Linked DNA regions of Homo sapiens. The protein of the gene in region 2 interacts with the protein of the main gene of each other region in a biochemical or structural test. Each region holds a gene or a part of one and is shown on either strand. Other genes may lie near its edges.

Evidence for each region.
Region 1: the proteins of COP1 (region 2) and MLF1 form a complex in vitro, tested with the Homo sapiens proteins (one study listed by BioGRID).
Region 3: the proteins of COP1 (region 2) and YWHAB form a complex in vitro, tested with the Homo sapiens proteins (one study listed by BioGRID).
Region 4: the proteins of COP1 (region 2) and TRPV4 interact in a test that uses a peptide from one of them, tested with the Homo sapiens proteins (one large-scale study listed by BioGRID).
Region 5: the proteins of COP1 (region 2) and CUL4B form a complex in vitro, tested with the Homo sapiens proteins (one study listed by BioGRID).

Annotation. Positions count from the first base shown.
Region 1 is NC_000003.12:158,577,566-158,581,335, reverse strand, and holds part of MLF1 (myeloid leukemia factor 1), read right to left. Parts: intron 1-3,770. UniProt on the Homo sapiens protein: Involved in lineage commitment of primary hemopoietic progenitors by restricting erythroid formation and enhancing myeloid formation.
Region 2 is NC_000001.11:175,945,151-175,948,920, forward strand, and holds part of COP1 (E3 ubiquitin-protein ligase COP1), read right to left. Parts: intron 2,090-3,770; coding exon 2,045-2,089; intron 21-2,044; coding exon 3-20; 3' UTR 1-2. UniProt on the Homo sapiens protein: E3 ubiquitin-protein ligase that mediates ubiquitination and subsequent proteasomal degradation of target proteins.
Region 3 is NC_000020.11:44,892,153-44,895,922, reverse strand, and holds part of YWHAB (14-3-3 protein beta/alpha), read right to left. Parts: intron 1-3,770. UniProt on the Homo sapiens protein: Adapter protein implicated in the regulation of a large spectrum of both general and specialized signaling pathways. Binds to a large number of partners, usually by recognition of a phosphoserine or phosphothreonine motif.
Region 4 is NC_000012.12:109,823,275-109,827,044, reverse strand, and holds part of TRPV4 (transient receptor potential cation channel subfamily V member 4), read left to right. Parts: exon of another isoform or gene 1-235; intron 236-3,770. UniProt on the Homo sapiens protein: Non-selective calcium permeant cation channel involved in osmotic sensitivity and mechanosensitivity. Activation by exposure to hypotonicity within the physiological range exhibits an outward rectification.
Region 5 is NC_000023.11:120,533,250-120,537,019, forward strand, and holds part of CUL4B (cullin-4B), read right to left. Parts: coding exon 3,678-3,770; intron 2,695-3,677; coding exon 2,581-2,694; intron 1,338-2,580; coding exon 1,232-1,337; intron 1-1,231.

The DNA.
Region 1 (3,770 bases), on a different chromosome or scaffold from region 2:
CCTCTCTTCTGCTGGAAGCATGAGAAGATTTTTTCCAATATTCACTGGGAGAACCTGGTAGAGCTCCTGGAGGTAAAACTCACAAAATTATGGGGGACCATGGAGTTCTTAACTCTGACACTTGTCCACTCTGAGTCTCCAGTAATTTGTCAACTACAGGTCAGGTTTTCCTACTACCCTCGCACTGGTTCCTGAAGAGGTTTCTGCACCAGTTAAGTTGTGATTCTCTCTATCTGCCTATCTCCAATTATGGGGGCAGAGATTTGCCCTGTGACCTCGATTCTCTGCTATATACAAGAAAAGTTGTTTTCTCAGGTTGTTCAGTTTTTAATTTGTTATTAGCGTGAAGTGGTAACCTTAAGCTTCTTACATGGCATATTATTATTTTGAGACAGAGTTTCATTCTGTCAGCTGGAGTGCAATGTGGCATGTTCATGGCTCACTGCAGCTTTGACCTCCTAAGCTCAATTGATCCTCCCACCTCAGCCTCCTTAGCTGGGACTATAGGCGTGCACTACCATGCCTGGATAATTTTTTTTTTTTTTTTTCTGGTAGAGACAGGATTTTGCCATGTTGCTCAGGCTGGTCTCGAGCTCCTGGGCTCTGCCCGTTTCAGCATCCCAAAGTGCTGGGATTACAGGTGTGAGCAACCATGCCCAGCCACATACCAGATTCTTGTAGGATTTTTAGTATGAGTTTTTGTCTTGAGGGGCAAAGGAAATTTAAGACTACCATTCCTAGATTTCCTACCTGTTAAAAGTTTGAGAATCACTATTCTAGCAAAATTATATGCAACAAGCACTATAAAGAAGTTGTGACAATTTATAAATTAATTTTAATTTAAAATCTCAGTGTGTACAGATCAATAGTACACACGGAGCAGCTCATGTTTTAGCACACTAGAAGGCAGAAAGGGAGTCGTTTTTTGTTTTCCAAAATCAGATTATGAAGAACAAAATTACTTTAAAATTAGTAATTCAAAATTTGGCATACGTATCACTCTACTTTTTTTTTCCACCTCACAAAATCTTTCTTTTTTTTTTTTAAGTTCCGGGGTACATGTGCAGGATGTGCAGGTTTGTTACATAGGTGAACATGTGCCATGGTGGTTTGCTACACGTATCAACCCATCACCTAGGTATTAAGTCCAGTATGCATTAGCCATTTTTCCTAATGCTCTCCCTACTTCCACCCCACTCTACTTTTTATTTGAAGGTACAGAGTTTCAAGTAGTTCTAAAATGCACAAATGAGTTACCCATGGAACATTTTCTAACTCCTACCTCAAAAACCAGATTATTCCAAAGTATTCGTTATACCTTTGCAGTATGTTTGAAATATTTCATAATAAATGTAACTGCATGAGGTTAAAGGATTTCATACCATTTGATGTTTTAAAACAGGCATTTCAAAAGGAGGTCCTTTTGCTTACAGCTCCAAACTCACTGGACATTTACAGCTTAGAGTATGGTTAAAGTATGGAGACTAAAATGCTTGTTCCTATTAATATATACTTACTTAGGAAAACCAGTCAACTTTTCCTTTAGATATGTAGATGTGATTTGACTACAATGAAGAAAAGTATTTCAAGAAATACTAAATTTGTTCTTTGAATAAGGGAGTGCTAAACAGCTATTACTTTTCTACAGAATCAAAATTTAGTAAAATTAATTTTTCTCATTGCATTATAATTGGGCTAAAAATTAATCAACAAAATATGGCTCATTTAAAATTTGCCTGGGTTTTTCTTTCTTTATATAGAAGTAGGGGAATATTTAAATGTTTATTTGAATATGTGTATGTTCAGCAAATGCTAAAAATTTTATCTTTCTGAGTGACATGAACAAATGACTGCCTGTTGGAAGATGCACTAAACAAAAGCGAGCCTATAGTCTGGTGTTTGCAACTGTCTGAACCATTCAGGAAGAAATCTGGCTGAAACTTCTAGTGAGTTTAATTCATGTCTACCCAGAAAGGCAGCTGCTTGGAGATAAGGCTTTAATGTTTCTCTTGTCCAAGTTTGAATTCACTTTTATCAAAACTAAAAAAATTCTATGGTAGCACACAGTTGTTTTAATATTTTTAAAATTAACCTAGGCTTTTTTTCTCAAATGAAAAATTTTAGCCCATTCATAATGTTCTCTTTTGAAAATAAAATTTCATTCTTCTAGGAAAACAAATTGGAAATAGGAGGTTTTAAAAAGGTCATGCTATACAAACTAGTCATTTCATGTACACAAAGAGTCTAAGGTAATAATTTGAAAATGTTGTTAAAGATTTATGTGAGAAATATGCTTTGTATGTTCATAGGGTGCAATATTTTGCAGACTCTAAAGTCATGCTTTAGTGAATATCTAAAGACCAGGAAAACGTTCATGGTATATGTTGCAGAAAAGCATTGAATAATTAACCATAAAGTGTGGTCCGAATTTTGGAAAATAAAAATCCACATGTGGACATCTGAAACAAAATACATCAAAATAATGGGTTGTATTATTTCTGCTACCAAACTTTCTATACTTTTCAGATTTTCCATGAGGATGTATTTTCATTTAGGTCAAGAAAAATGTACTTTTACTCACTGATGACTATATACCTCCTCTCTTAGAATTGCTCACACAAACCACAACCAAACTGAATAAACTTTGGTCTCAAACGTACTTTTTCTATTCTATATTATTTACCTTCAGCATATATCACAAGGCAGGAAAAATAAATTGTTGCCTACTTCCCCTTCAAAAGTGTTTATGTCTTAACTCTTAGATTGATTCCAGGTCACTTGGGAATGATTTCAACATAGTGTGTACGTGTGTGTGTGTGTGTGTGTGTGTTTGTATGTATGTATGTACATACGTACATACATGTGTTTAAGGGCTGGTAATGTCTCCCTTTAGAATAATTTATTGTTTTTAAAACTCTCTCAAATACATATGTACACACACACACACACACACACTTATTTTGCCTAAGTTACACTTCTTTTTCATCTATATAAGAATATAGATACTTGTGCTTCTAAGCAAAGAGCATTACCTATTACATAAGGTTCTCAGATAACTGACATGGCAGGCTCACTCATTAAGGGAAATTCCTCCCTTCCATTATACATGGTAGTGGCAAAAGCTTAGCCAGCAGATGGTTATGGTTCTCTTGATCATAAAGAAATGTTCCCTAGTTTCAATGAGGTAGACTGGTCTATAAGGAAAATAGACCAGAAGATCCATGTTTTGATACTAGAAATAATGCATGTAACATTCAAAGAAGGATCTTGAGGGCAGGAACCAAGACATCTAAAAATTTAAAAGAGAACCCACAGGGTTCGGCCTATAGTAGAAACTGAAGAAATATTTAAAGAATGAATTACATTTTTATTAAGCAATTCTATTTTTCCATTGTCTTGAAGTACAAAGTGTTGGTGTGGCAAAAGCCTTTGATATCAAAAAAATTGTGGAAATGATTATGCTCCCCTGATATTCTATAAATAGTTCACTCCTTTTTCATGGATATTTACAATATTAATTGGCAGAAGTAGGAATTATCTTGTGGGTACATGCTACTGTATGGCATTTTTGACCCAGCAACCATGTCCTAGTCATGCTGTGTTCCTGGGCTCCTAATTCAGTGGTGTTTACCTCATGAACCAAAGAATGCCCCAAATGAATAGTATACCTTAGAAATCCTTTCAGCACAAGGCTTACAGTGTCTCATTCTTTCAAATATGATCTTATAATTTGCAAAGTTCATTTATAAGAAATTTATATATTAAAATAT
Region 2 (3,770 bases):
CTTCATACCAATTCTAGCACCTAATTGGGGGGAAAAAAGGATCCATTTAATAAAATCATTTAAGATATAAAAGGAATTTAATGACTCTTTACTATATTTACCAATAGAAAAGCAAATTTAAAAAACGTTTCCCAACTGGGAAAATGCCAAAGAATTTGAATGGATTGGACATTAATCCTTTTTGACCTGCAGCTTAACAGCTGCATGAACTCTTTCAGATGAGCTATCTCCACAGTTAACTTGGAAGCCTTCAAGGTAAACTACATAAAACACATGGAAAAATAAATTGGCTAATGCATAGCACAAATACATTTTTGGAATATATGTTGGAATCTTTCCACATTCTTATGAAAGTTTTAAGTATCCTTGTTTAGGATTTTAATCTGTTTTCTTCTTTCATCAATAAACACTGTTTATAATGATCAAGGTTACAGGACCTAAAGTCTTGCTCTTTCCTGCTGCTTCATCCATTTCTAGCCAATCATCTAGCGTCCAGATACTTTGTATTTTTAGAATTAAAGTAGTATACTGTCATAAAAAAGTAAGTTGTGATATTGCTAAAACTAAGAGGAAGCAAATGGCTAAGAAAGATCACGGAACAGGAGGATAGTTATGAGACACTGTCAAAAAGAATTACATTAGATGGACACTACAACACTCACTAAGTAGCAAATATTTAAACGTGCAACCTTTCCCCTGCTGCTCAGCTAAGGCTTGACTAATATATGTGCTTCCATAATGCTTTTGTCTTTATATTAGGTAACTAGGCTACTTAACATAAGAAGTCAATGATGCTGAACAAAATCTTAGATTTGTCAGTGGGATCCTATGAGAACCTATGTAGTTTTGAGCTCTTGTAGGTATGCTGGCAATCCCAATTGGTGTAAAGGATAAACTTTTTGAAGAGTAAGGTGTAGCTTTTCAATTCATGACTTGACATGAGAGTAAGAGAGAGACTGAGAGAGTATAGAAAGCCACTTAAATCAGATATTCCAAGACCTTCTACCATCTTGCTTGAGGCTTCCAGAACATAACAAACACTGATCAGTTAAAAAACCTCGTTTTCATTTAAGCTCTCAGTGGTTCTCTAAAGAGGCTTTTCAAACAGAGAAACTGGCTGCCTAAAAAAGGAGACTACCATGTAAATTAGTGCAGTTCTTCTGCGTTAAGTTTGCTCATTTCACCTCTGTAGAATGTTTAGGCTAGGATTTGCTGCCTTGGCTGATGGATTATTCTCCACTTATGATGAGTCTAAGGAAGCTATGGCAAAATTAATGCTAAGTGGCAGGAGAAACACACACGTTATGTTAAAAAACTTTCAATATTTCTACCAAATCAGCAGAGAATATGTGGAAAAAACAGGTACTCTCAGAAACACGTACTCCACCAAAAGGGTGTTTTGTTTAGAAAGTTCACTGCTTATCTCAGGATTTATTTATCCAATGTATCATGTACAAGTGCTATATATGCATCAATCAATTTTCTTTCCTTTTTTTATGGCTAGGCTTCCTTGAATCACATCTATCAATTTTCAACTGAACACTAAAATAACTTTTTCTCCCCTTTGACAACTGAGGAAAAACCTACTTCTTAGGGGACAGAAGAAAGAGAACCATGAGGAAGAGAATAAAATATGACCAAGATATGTTTAAATCTGGTGATGTCTAAGCATCTTCTGCTATATCTTGCATCTCCTGCTATATTTTGGGCTCTATCTACTGAAAGCCCTGTGGGAGAGTTGTACTGGCATAACAGAAGCTAAACTGTGCTTAGCCCACAGTGAATGTTCACTAGTCTTTATCTGTTTTTCAAACTGACCATCTATTAATCCATCCAGCATCCATACAACCTCAATAAGCACTATCATCTTCTCCACAGATGCAAGCTACCTATTCTTTTCCCTTAAATCAAGCCATTTGTAAGGAGACACAGACCCATGATTTGGGATGATCTCTAAGGCTCAGTACAATGGTGTATTTCTATAATCCTGTTTCAGTCTAAAAATGGGCCTGAGTTTAAAATGGAGATATAGTAAATAGCTTACCTTAATTGTACCCTGACTGTTAGCAGCAATCAGCACATTGGACTCCTAGAAAAGAACAAGAGCTTTTAAAGTATAGAGAAGGATTTCCTGGAGAGCAATCCAAGAGATAATTTCCTCTTCATCCTTCTTTCTTCACTTCAATTCCTAAGACAATTGAATCTAATATGAAGATACAATTTTTTTTTTTTTTTTTTGAGACGGAGTCTTGCTCTGTTGCCCAGGCTGGAGTGCAATGGCGCGATCTTGGCTCACCACAACCTCCACTTCCTGGGTTCAAGCGATTCTCCTGCCTCAGCCTCCCGAGTAGCTGGGATTACAGGCATGCGCCACCAGCCCAGGTAATTTTTGTATTTTTAGTAGAGACGGGGATTCTCCATGTTGGTCAGGCTGGTCTCGAACTCCCAACCTCAGGTGATCTGCCCACCTCGGCCTCCCAAAGTGCTGGGATTACAGGCGTGAGCCACTGTGCCCAGTCGAAGAGACAATTTTAACATGTTTTTAACTGTATTTTAAACTTAAGATCCCATATTTTGAAGTGTAAGTTTTAATAAAAGAATAAAGTTAGAAGCAGAGTAGGACACTTTTGAATGTAAACAAAAATAAAAGGGAAAAAGATTGTCAATGGAAGAAAAGCCAAAAGAAACAAAGACTGAAATAAAATGAAAAAAAGAGTAAGTTGAGAAAAACAAAGTGAATAATTGCTTTCCCAGCACACTCCTTCTTCATTCATTTTCTCTCATAAAATACCAGTAATTGATGTAAAACCTGCCAACATCCTTGGCACAAATCTCTATGGATGGACATTTGGTATTAGGAAAACAAGAAAATGTGAATATTCATTTGGGAAAAAGGACTATCTTTCTTTTTAATTATTCTATCATTCAGCACATGCATTTTTAATAACCTTGGTAATTACTTGGATGAGAATATATGTGGTGAAGTATTTTTCTATTCTAAGCCAAGGAAAAAACATTTCTCTGGAAAGTAGGAAGAGTGGGAAAAGAAATGGACATGACTGAGTTTACTAGAGAGAATCTCAGAAAGTAGGAAGAATGGAGACATGCCTCCTGTAGGAAACTGGGCATCTAAAGGGCTCTGGAACTTGGATGTGTTGGAGTCTTTTGCTTTCCATGGTAGGCAGCTAAGAGGTGGTAAACAGACTTAAAATGTCATAGAGGTCAGGCCAGGTGGCAGAGAGAAAAACGAAGTCCAAATAACAGCTATGAGAAACAGATAAAGTGGTCTAATTTGAATGTAGGATAGGATCTACCTAAATATCCTTCAGGCTTCATGACAAAGCAATAATAAGAACAAAGAAAACTCTTGGCTTGTATGTTAGAAAAGTTACTTCAGCTAAGCTGAGTTAAACTTTAGTTTCTTTGACATATGCAAGTTGCGCTTTACAAACTCATACATTTCCATTTTTAAATTTTCCCTTTCATTTCTAATAAAGCTGCTCTTCAGAAATGTGCATCTTGTTACTAATGGCATACAAGAAAATAATAATGTCTTCCACTATTCCAGAATTTTTAATGGAATCAGAATACTCTTTGGAATTAGTCAGCAGCATCAAAGATTATAGGTGTATCAAGAAGAAATAAAGACATGTGGGCATGGGAATTGTTGATCTTTTCCTAGCTGAGGATTTTCCTTAAATTAGCAAATGTTCTTAAAAATAGTAACATGGGGGCTGGGCGCAGTGGCTCACACCTGTAATCCCAGCACT
Region 3 (3,770 bases), on a different chromosome or scaffold from region 2:
GTAAGCATAAAACTGCAGAGTTGGTAGAGTTCTCCCTTTTCTCAAATAATTCAAAGCACCTATTAGCCTCACAAGCATATTAAATCTTCATTACATTTGTACCTAGTTTCTTGAATTTCTGTGCCCTCTGAAATTCAAAGAGTAATTCACTCTTCCAGTCAGGCATGGCAGATCAATCTATAATCCCAGTGCTTTTGGAGGCCAAAGCTGGAGCATCGCTTGAGACCAGGAGTTCAAGACCAGCCTGGGCAACATAGTAAGACCTTGTCTCTACAAAAAATAAAATATTAGCCAGGTGTGGTGGCTCATGCCTGTGGTCCCAGCTACTTGGGAGGCTGAGATGGGAGAATCGCTTGAGGCTAGGAGGCCAGGGATGCACTGAGCCATGACTGCATCACTGCACTCCAGCCTGGGTGACAGACACCCTGTCTCAAAACAAACAAAAAATTACTCTTCCTAAATTACCTCTAGTCTTGCCTTTGTCCTTACTCAGTAACTTCCAATGACTCCCTTTTGGCTACTCCATCAAATTTAAGCTCTACCTGGCTTTCAAATTCCTGATAAATTGTCTCCTCTTTACTTGTTTGGCTTTCTCATCCACTGTTCTCCAACATGTACCTTTCTCTCAGGCTGGCCAGCACCACATGCCCTATAAACACAATGCTCAAACGTGTCTGAAACTGCTTTTGTAGTTCCCTTCATCTAGAGTGCTCTCCTATTTACTGCCTGCCTATCTGAACTCCACCCATTCTTCTAGGGCTACAAACCCTTCCCTGACTGCCCTAGCCCTCACTGATTTACCTTGCCTATGACTCTGAATATACTTATAGCCTATTACATGGTCTAGGACTTCTTTATGCCATTCTGTGATACAGATGAGTACTGTACCACTTACAGCTTCACGTGTGTGCCCTCAAAGGAAAGCTTCATGTTTGTTTCACATTTAATGCTTATAACTGTGCTAAGCACAAAACTCATATGCAAATGAATATCAAGTTTTTCTACAAATCATTATTGGGAGAGCACAAGGAACACAGAGTACCTATATGTAGTATAGTCGGAAGGCAGCAGGACTGTGTGTCACAGCGCAATGTGCCACTATACAGCCATGTGAGCATGTTAAATCTCAGCCTTCCAATCCATAAAATGAAGATGGCATCTACCTCAGTAGAGTTGCTGTGAAGATGAGGCGCAGGGAATTAAAGAATACTAAATGTGGAAATCTTCCTTGAAAAATGCATAGTGCAAAATCAAACTGAAGTACTATTATTCTTCTCCACGACTATTACACTGTAGCAGCCCATAAAACCATAAGCTTGAATTTTCTTTTTAAATATACAATTTTGTGAGAAGGAAAAGCAAAAGTCTAGATTAATCTTGTACAGATAGTTAGTATGTTATGTTAAAATGGACATATATGTTAAATGTAACTGAAGTTTATCCATTAGTTTCTAATTGAATTTTCTAGTGATATGCCATGATGGTTTTTAATCAAGACCTACTGTTGTTCCAAGACTTTGAATGAGGTTCCCACTAAAAAAAAAGTCAGCAAGATACTCTTTATTTGTCTCCTAAAAAGTTTTTGAAAGACTATAGTCTCATCGTCAGGCCTGGCACCACTGCAGAAGCATCAAGATACTGGCGCAGGCAAACTCATTAGAGGCCACAAAAGGCCCAACCCTGCAGTAAGCCAAGAGATTTTCCTTGTGCTGGGCATATTTCAGGAAGAGACTGACGTGCTTGAGAACAGGAGCTCTCCAGCACACCTATATGATGATGATGGCTGTCAATCTGTTCTAAGCCACTGGATGCAGCAAGTCAGGACTGGGAAGCATTTGTTGATAAACGCAGAGATTGCTTAGTGAAAAAATGGAAGCAAATCTAAATATCCAACAATATGGGAATGGTTTAAAAAATAAGGAGACTGGCCAGGTGCACTGGCTTACGTGTGTAATCCCAGCACTTTGGGAGGCCAAGGCAGGCAGATCACCTGAAGTCAGGAGTTCGAGACCAGCGTGGCCAATGTGGTGAAACCCCGTTTCTACTAAAAATACAAAAAAATTAGCCGGGGTGGTGTATGACTGTAATCCCAGCTACTCGGGAGGCTGAGGCAGGATAATCACTTGAACCCAGGAGGTGGAGGTTGCAGTGAGCCGAAACTGCGCCACTACACTCCAGCCTGGGCGACAAGAGCGAAACTCCGTCTCAAAAAAAAAAAAAAAAAAAAAGGCAGGGGAGGGAAGGAGATAGATGGTACAAGATTACGTGGCCATCAAAAGAAGAGATTTAATGTCATGAAAAGATTTATTTAAGAGCAATGGGGGCTGGAGGGACGAGGCTGCACAATATTTTATTTCTGTAAAATATCCCCTAAAGAACAAACAAACCCGAACAGAAAGGTTACACCAAATGGTTAACACTGGTTCTGTCTCTGGGTAATAACATTATTATATCCTCATTTTCCTATCTTTTTAAATTTTCTTCAAGTATGTATTACTTTTTTAAAAATTGGGTACTATTTCTTTTTTTAAGAAAAAAAGTGTTTTTCTGTTTAAAGAGAAACCACTAGTGCAGATAAACAGCTATGAAAAATAATTCTAAAGGTACTCACAAAATAGGATTTTCTTCAAAGAAACAAAATCCTAAATCAGATAATAAATGCTGAAAATAGAGGATCTAGGAAACAGCCTAGCCCCTCTATCCCAATTCCTTCCCCAAGGGACATCTTTCTAGTCAGGGTCAAAATACTGAGAAGTTATTTCCCAGTGGCTAGAGCAGATATCCTAGGAGAAGAATCAAAAAAGAAAGAAAGAAAAGAAAAAGAAGACTACCTACTGCTAATCCATTTTTTTTTAAATAAAGGCAGTGCAAAGACAGAAAGGGTTGAAAATGACAGCTGTGGCCTTTAGAAGCACTGGCTTTCAGCTATGTTTTGTTTTCAAGGCAAAGAACATGCTCGATTCGAAAATAATAAGCTTTGAATTTAATAATTTGTTAGAAATTTCAGATGAAGACTCCATTATTATATGTCAGGAATTACCCAAGCTCTATACATATAAAATATACGGTGGGGTCTGCTTTTAGCAAGCCTTACATACACATCTGAGCTTCTAAAGAGAAAGTAGGTGATTTTTCTACATTTCCACATTATAACTTACCTGAATCTGTTTTCTCAGTGTTAAAAAGAGACATTAATAGCTATCAAATAAGATAATGAACATAAAATGCCCATATAGTGCTGGTTAGAGTAAAGGCTCATAAGCCATTCTTATTTTTTATTCTTAAGCTACCTCACAAAAATGTAACACATATAATCCAATGTGTGTTGAAATAACTAACAAAATGAAAAACTACCAAATTTCTAAGAACTCTTTGGATTATTCATTGAGAGGAATTTAAAAGAAAGCAGTGTAGTCCTCCCCTCAGAGAGCTTAAACTCTAGTGGTAGAAACACAAGAAAAGAGCACATGTATATCTATTACACATCAATTAAAAAAAAAAACAGCACACGTTTAAGGGTTACAATGCCTCTCCTTAGAAAGCCAACCAGACAGAACTAGAGGAAATAGGTTTAAAGGTAGCTAGGTCGTGACTTAAAAAGAGATGTTATTAATAAAGTGCATGTATGTTTTTCTAGATGAGATAAAAATCAAAGGCCAAAGCAGATAAAGAAATGAGAATAAGGAAGAAAACTGACAAGAAAATCTGAAAAATCTAGGCTCGAATGTTTCAATGGGGTAAGGAACTGATCACATATTCTGAACAGCATT
Region 4 (3,770 bases), on a different chromosome or scaffold from region 2:
ATTCATTCATTCATTCATTCATCCAGCAAATACATCTTGAGCAGCTGCTATGTGCCAGGACCTGTTCCAGGCATCTGGGCCTCAGCAGTTACCAGAAGGGAGTCCCTCCGCCCTAGAGCTTTTGTCCGAGTGACATCATTCCACACGCAGTGCTTTGAGGCCACTTTGTGAGACTCTGATACCCACAATGACAAGTAATCCAGCAGTGGGAACTGTGATGAGCTCCCTTTTACAGGTGAGGAAACTGAAGCTCGGAGAGGTCAAGTGATCCGTCTGGGGCCACGCAGTTACTAAATGGCAAAGTCAAGATTCAGACTCCAAGCCTGTCACCACTGTGCCATCTTGTCCTGCTGAGTTCCAAGGGATATGGCGTTGAGAAGGGGGGTCCTAGGGAGAGGGCATGGTAGCCCCCAAAGGGATGAATGAACTCAAATGGATTTAAAAGCAGATGGTTGGAAGTCTAGCCACATTCACTTCCTGTAGCGTTGTGGACTCAGTTAAATCTCATTCTTTCTGATCTTCAGTTTGTTCATCTGTGAAATGATAACAATAACACCGACCTCAAATGAGAGAGAAATGTGAAAGTGCTTAGCATATGATAGGTATTGGATAAATGTCAGCCCTTACCTCCTTTCCCCCGGGACTGACTTTATACATCTGGGAATGGAGACAATAATATTTAATGTCTATAGTTATTATTTGGATTAAAATAGATAGAAGGGGCCAGCCATGGTGGTTCACGCCTGTAATCACAACACTTTGGGAGGCCAAGGTGTGTGGATCACGTGAGCCCGGGCATTGGAGACTAACCTGGGCAGTAGAGTGAGACTCCATCTCTACAAAAAATAAATTTTAAAAGTAGGAATGGTGGTACATGCCTGTGGTCCCAGCTTCTGGGGAGGCTGAGGTGGGAGGATTGCTTGAGCCTGGGAGGTCGAGGCTGCAGTGAGCTATGATTGTGCCACTGCACTCCAGCCTGGGTGACAAAGCCATACCCTGTCTCAAAACAAAAAACAACCAAATGGGAGGTGCTGTGTGAAGTGTGCCATGGAGGGTAGGCATTACTGATGGTACATTGCAGGCATTAGCCTCAGTCATAATTCCAAGCAGTTAACCCCTGAGGCAGCAGCTTACTGTTGGCACAGACTGGTGTTGAGGTGGGCTGGGACAGAGGAAGGATCTCAAACTGGTTTTCTGCTGCCTTGGGCTCCCTTCCCCGACTCCTGCCCCATCCACTCATAACGGGCACCTGCCCTCTTCCCCCTCCTCTGATTTGGCAAACTCGGGACTTTTGCTCCTAGAAGTGGGGTAGAGGAACGTATGCATGGACGAGTGTCCTGTCCCTTCTGGTCCTTAGTCTCCCAGCTGGGAGGCAGCCCTTGTCCTGACAGCCTTCTAAAGGTGACAGAAGATGGAAATGAGGTGGCGAGGAAACCCTTTCCAAAGGTGAGGTCTCTGCAGTCACGAGCCCTGGTTTTGGAGCCGGGAAGTCTGGGTTCCAGTGCCTGCCCAGTTCTGACCTCCCTGGACCTCAATGTCATCATCCCCCACCTCCCACTGCAAACTGAGGGAATGTTAGCAAGAATGGCAAAGCAGCCATTGAACATCCTTATCTGTAAAATGGGGGTAATAATTGCTACGACCTGGGTGGGGTTAAGCTGTATTTGCTCCATAGTTATTTGGTATACAGTACATTCATGCTTTAAACTAAAAAATAAGTTCAAGTTCATTGAACACTTGGTGTTTGTTGGGCACTGCACTGAAGGCTTGAATTATCACATTTAATCCTCACAATAGCTCTTTGGGGTAGGAGCTGTTATTTTATTTTTTAATATTTTAAAAAATAAATAAATTTATTTATTTTTTGTAGAGATGGGATCTCACCATTTTGCCCAGGCTGGTCTCGAACTCCTGGGCTCAAGCGATCCTCCCACCTTGGCCTCCCAAAGTGTTGGGATTACAGGTGTGAGCCACTGCACCCAGCCTTATTTTTTAGTTTAAAGCATGAATGTGCTATACACCAAATAACTATGGAGCAAATACGGCTTAACCCCACCCAGGTCGTAGTAATTATTACTCCCATTTTACAGATAAGGAAACCAAGGCCCAGAGATGAGATGTGACTTGTGCAAGACCATACAGCCAGTGAGTGGCAGATGAGATGTAAAGCATTGATCAGGCAACGTTCTCAGACTATAGAATCCTCTCTGGAGTTCTCCGTGGCTGTGACCATCCTCTAGGAGAGGGGCTAGGCCAGAGAGAAGGCGGGCCTAAGGTTTTGTTTTGTTGAGATGGAGTCTCGCTCTTGTCGCCCCCGCTGGAGTGCAGTGGTGCTATCTCTGCTCACTGCAATCTCTGCCTCCTGGGTTCAAGAGATTCTCATGCCTCAGCCTCCCGAGTAGCTGGGATTACAGGTGCATGCTACCACACCCGGCTAATTTTTGTATTTTTGGTAGAGATGGGGTTTCACCATGTTGGCCAGTCTGGTCTTGAACTTCTGACCTCAAGTGATCCGCCCACCTCGGTCTCCCAAAGTGCTGGGATTACAGGCGTGAGCCACTGCGCCCGGCCGGACTAAGAATTTGATGCCTCCCTCCTCCTGGGCTGGAGCTGAGTAGCATGTTCTCAAGCAGGGCTGGCTGAGAGGGTGGAATCCTGGGGCTATGCTCTGATGGGAAGGAAGCGAGATAAGGGAAGAAGGACCTGGAGCCTCCTGGGGTAGTGACTTTGTATCCTTGAGCTCCTACTACGTGCCAGACCTTGTTTGAAACCCTTTATGTGGCTGGGCACGGTGGCCGACGCCTGTAATCCCAGCATTTTGAGAGGCCGAGGCGGTCGGATCACCTGAGGTCAGGAGTTCGAGACCAGCCTGGCCAACATGGTGAAACCCCGTCTCTACTAAAAATACAAAAATTAGCTGGCGCAGCGGTGGGCACCTGTAATCCCAGCTACTTGGGAGGCTGAGGCAGGAGGATTGCTTGAACCTGGGAGACGGAGGTTGCAGTGAGCCAAGATTGTGCCACTTATACTCTAGCCTGGGTGACAGAGCAAGATCCTGTCTCTCTCTGTCACACACACATGCGCACACACACACACACACACAAGAAAGAAAAAAAAGAAACCCTTTATGTGTGCTTAATCTCCATGACATTCCCATGTTGCAACAAGGAAACTGAGGTTCTGGGAGGGAAGTGACCTGCCTGAGGTCACTAAGCCTGGAAGGGTCATTTAGATGTAATTCACATACTCATAACTCAGTCTTTTAAAACGTACAATTCAGTTGGTTTCTTAGTGTATTCAGAGTTGTACAGACATCAGCACTATCTCATTCCAGAACATTTTCATCACCCCAAAAAAGGACTCTGTACCCATTAGCAGTCACCACTCCCCACTCCCAGCCCCTGGCAACAACTAATCTGCTTTCTGTCTCTGTGGATTTGCCTGTTCTGGGCATTTCATATAAATGGAATCCTGCAATATGTGGCCTTTTGTGTCTACAAGGTGCATGCTCTTAACCATTAAGCCACACCGCTTCTTGGTGGCTCCTACCCAGGGGCCGGGACCCTTGGAAATGACTTGGTCCCTGTGAAAGCTCAGAGGGGCATCTGTGTGTGCTGTCAGCCGGCCTCCCTCCAGCCAAGGGCTTGCAGAATGACCAAATGACTGCCGTGGCCACGCTGGCCTTGCCCTCCGTGGGGCGCGGTGAGTCACCCCAGACCTGCCCTGCCTGGGTGGTGTGAGTGCATGGGGTGGGGGCCCAGCAGGACACT
Region 5 (3,770 bases), on a different chromosome or scaffold from region 2:
CCTGAATCATCCCAATAGCATCTAAACTGGAATCCCTTGATCCTTCCAGTTGCCCTGTAGATTGATTTCAGTAAGTGGTCCAAATAATTACTTCCACCATGCCACATAGTTGAGACACTACAGTGTAGGTTTCATTTGCTAGACTTATCAGGTTCTCCACAATCAGGCCCTACTCATCTTACCTAATTTTTTAACTCACTATTCTATGTTACAATTAAGCTCTTCATGATTCTTCATGATTCTATGCTACAATTAAGCTCTTCATGGGCCTATACTGTGCCCATTCCTACCTCCCAACCTCATCTCAAAATATTTCCCCTTGCTGTATATGCCTTCTCCCTGACCAAAACTTGAAGGCCCAGCTCAAATGCCACTTGCTTCATGACAGCTTTCCCAATTGTGCCAGTCCACGGTGATCTCTTGCTTTGTTGCACTCTTACCACACTTATAGTCAGTACCACAAGCCAGTACTTATGGGTTTTGACATTATTTCAAGTGTCATTTCCCCCTTTCCCTATGGTTATATAAAGAGTTCTGGCCAGGCGCGGTGGCTCACACCTGTAATCCCAGCACTTTGGTAGGCCGAGGCAGGCGGATCACGAGGTCAGGAGTTCGAGACCAGCCTGGCCAACATGGTGAAACCCCGTCTCTACTAAAAATACAAACATTAGCCAGGTGTGGTGGCAGGCGCCTGTAATCCCAGCTACTCGGGAGGCAGAGGCAGGAGAATTGCTTGAACACAGGAGGCAGAGGTTGCAGTGAGCCGAGATCGCGCCACTGCACTCCAGCCTGGGTGACAGAGCAAGATTCCGTCTTGAGGGGAAAAAAAAAGAGTTCTGGCTGGCTGCAGGGGCTCATGCCTGTAATTGCAGTACTTAGGGAGGCTGAGGCAGGAAGACCCCTTGAGCCCAGGAGTTTGAGACCAGGCTAAGCAACATAGTGAGACCCTGTCTCTACAAAAAAAAATTTTAAAAATTAGCCAGGCACGGTGGCATGCACTTGTAGTCCCATCTGCTTGGCAGGCTGAGGCAGGAGAATCACTTGAGCCTGAGCCATGATTGTACCACTGGACCCCAGCCTGGGTGACAGAGTGAGACCCTGTCTCATTAAAAAAAAAGAAAAAAAAAACTCAAAACAGTTCTGAGGCAAGGAATTATTCCTATAAATATGTCCCCCAGACCTCTTAACATAGTGGTGTGCACATAGTGAACAATTAATGTTTGCTACAAACCTATTCCAGTTGCCTGCTTGATCTCTTCTAAACTGAACTCCTCTCCCTCATTAAACATTAGCAGCACCAGTGTTTGAAAAAGAGAGACCTGGAGTTCCTTTTTACCCTGTTGAAGAAATAAAAGTGTTTAGTCATCACTTTTTTAAAAACACATGAAAAATTAATCATCTCTTATAGGAAAAGCATTTTTCAATTAGTGGATTTAGAAACATGATTAGCATTATCCAGCAAAGCCACTTGACGTGGTAATACAGTATTTCAGTGTGAGGTTTAGGTGTGACCCTACCTAAAATAGGGGGAAGGATTAGCTGACCTTTTAACAGTTTTTTTTTAAGCCTTATAAATAGAATACAGTAATGAAAATTAATCAGCCTTATGTGTCATTCTAGATATTCATCACAAGCAGCAAGAAATCACTATTTCAAATGTATTTTTGATTTGTTTGGCTCAGATTAGTCATGAAAAGCTAAAGTTTTTTGAGATTAGATATTGCACACTGTTTCCCTTAACTCCCACTCTATTCGTAGCTCCCAGCAACAAGATTTCTGTCAAGAAGTGGCAGTGTTAGACTAAGTGTAGTTGCTCATGCCTGTAATCCCAGCACTTTAGGAAGCGGAGGCAGGGGGATAGCTTGAGCCCATGAGTTTGAGGTTACAGTGAACTATGATTGTGCCACTGTACTCCTGCCTGGGTGACAGAGTGGGACCCTATCTCTAAAAATAAACAAATAAATAAAAATAGGAAGTGGCAGTGTACAGTTTTCATCCACAGGTGAGGAAAGGGTAGGGGGAAAGTTCACTGCTTTTCATTTTGCAGAAGGGCCAAATCAATCGTGGAAAGACCACACACCTAAAATTACTTAAAAATACATAAAGCTATGACAAACTATCACTGTCATCATGCGGATATCTAGGATACAATTATAAAACAACAGCTTAAACTGGCCAGATGCGGTGGTTCACACCTGTAATCCCAGCACTTTAGGAGGCCGAGGCGCGTGGATCACAAGGTCAAGAGACAGAGACCATCCTGGCCAACATGGTGAAACCCCGTCTCCACTAAAAATACAAAAAAAATTAGCTGGGTATGGTGGCGCACGCCTGTAGTCCCAGCCACTCGGGAGGCTGAGGCAGGAGAATCACCTGAACCCAGGAGGCAGAGGTTGCGGTGAGCCAAGATAGCGCCACTGCACTCCACTCTGGTGACAGAGTGAGACTCTGTCTCAAAAAAAAAAAAAAAAAAAAAAAAGAAGAAAACAAAAAACAATAGCCTAAACTTTCAGTTAAGAAGGATGACCTAAACATTAAAGATAAAGATGAAAACTAAAAGTTTTGGGAACATCCACTTACCTCTTTAAATTCTGCTTTTAACACACAGTGTCCTAGGGTTGACTGCCACTGAAGTTTCCTGCCACTATGTTTGCCTAGGTAAAATGTCTTGAAAATCTCCTGAAGTTTTACCATCTAAAGTAAATAAAATAAGGCTTTATTTAAGCTCTGTATCCAATACCACATTTACCATTTTTATACTTACCTCATGTGATATAGTTTCTGGAAAATTTTAAGACTATATCCAGTAGGTCCACCAATCACTTTGATGAAAAACAATGATCTCCCAACCACCAAATCAAATGGGATTTATTAGGATTTATACCTTTTGCTCTCTCTGAACATTTAATCATCCCCTCTTTTGAAACATTCACCTGCAGCAGCTTTTGTGCCTCTGCACTATGCTGCTTCCTTTATTTCACTGTTGCTTCTGCATTGGTTTCCTTCACAGGTTCCTCTTTCTACCATCTGCCAAATGTGAGCCTTTTCTAAAGTTCTGCCTCTGCTGTTTTTTCTTCCTCTTTGAGAGAAATCTACTCCCTGGGCCTTCATAATCATCTCCATGGAGGATTCTCAATATCTATCTGTCTAGCCTTAATCCCTTTTATGGGCTTCAGTCCTGGACTAGACAGTTTACCAGGAGTCAGGATAGATTTAATCAAGGACCCATCATTTAGCAATCCCACCTATGGGTGAAATATGTGCAAGAATTCTTAATAGCTAGGTAGAGTGAGGGGTATAACCTGGGAAGATGGAAGAAGAGCCAGGGAAATTGACCCTGAACCCAGAAATTTGGCATTATTAGCTATGTGCTTAACTGGACTTCTAAGTACAAAAGTAAAACATTAAAGCAGTTGGTATTTGGTGTTGGTGCGCTTACTGACATACACTTTTAAAAGTATCCATGCCAAGCCTGGTGACTTACACCTGTAATCCCAGCACTTCGGAAGGCTGAGGCGGGGGGGATCACTTGAGCCCAAGAGTTCAAGACCAGCCTGAGCAATACAGCGAGACCCTGGGTCTCTATTTTTTTCTAAGTATCTATTTTTAAATGACAAGCAAAATGGAAATGCTATGATTTCTATGCCTATAACTCAGTTCTAAACAGTAACTCTTACCTCTGGTGGTAAATGAACTTCCATAGGCACATATGTCGGCCAATAGCCCATTGTCAGGATATTCACAGTTAACTCAATATTTCCCGGAACATT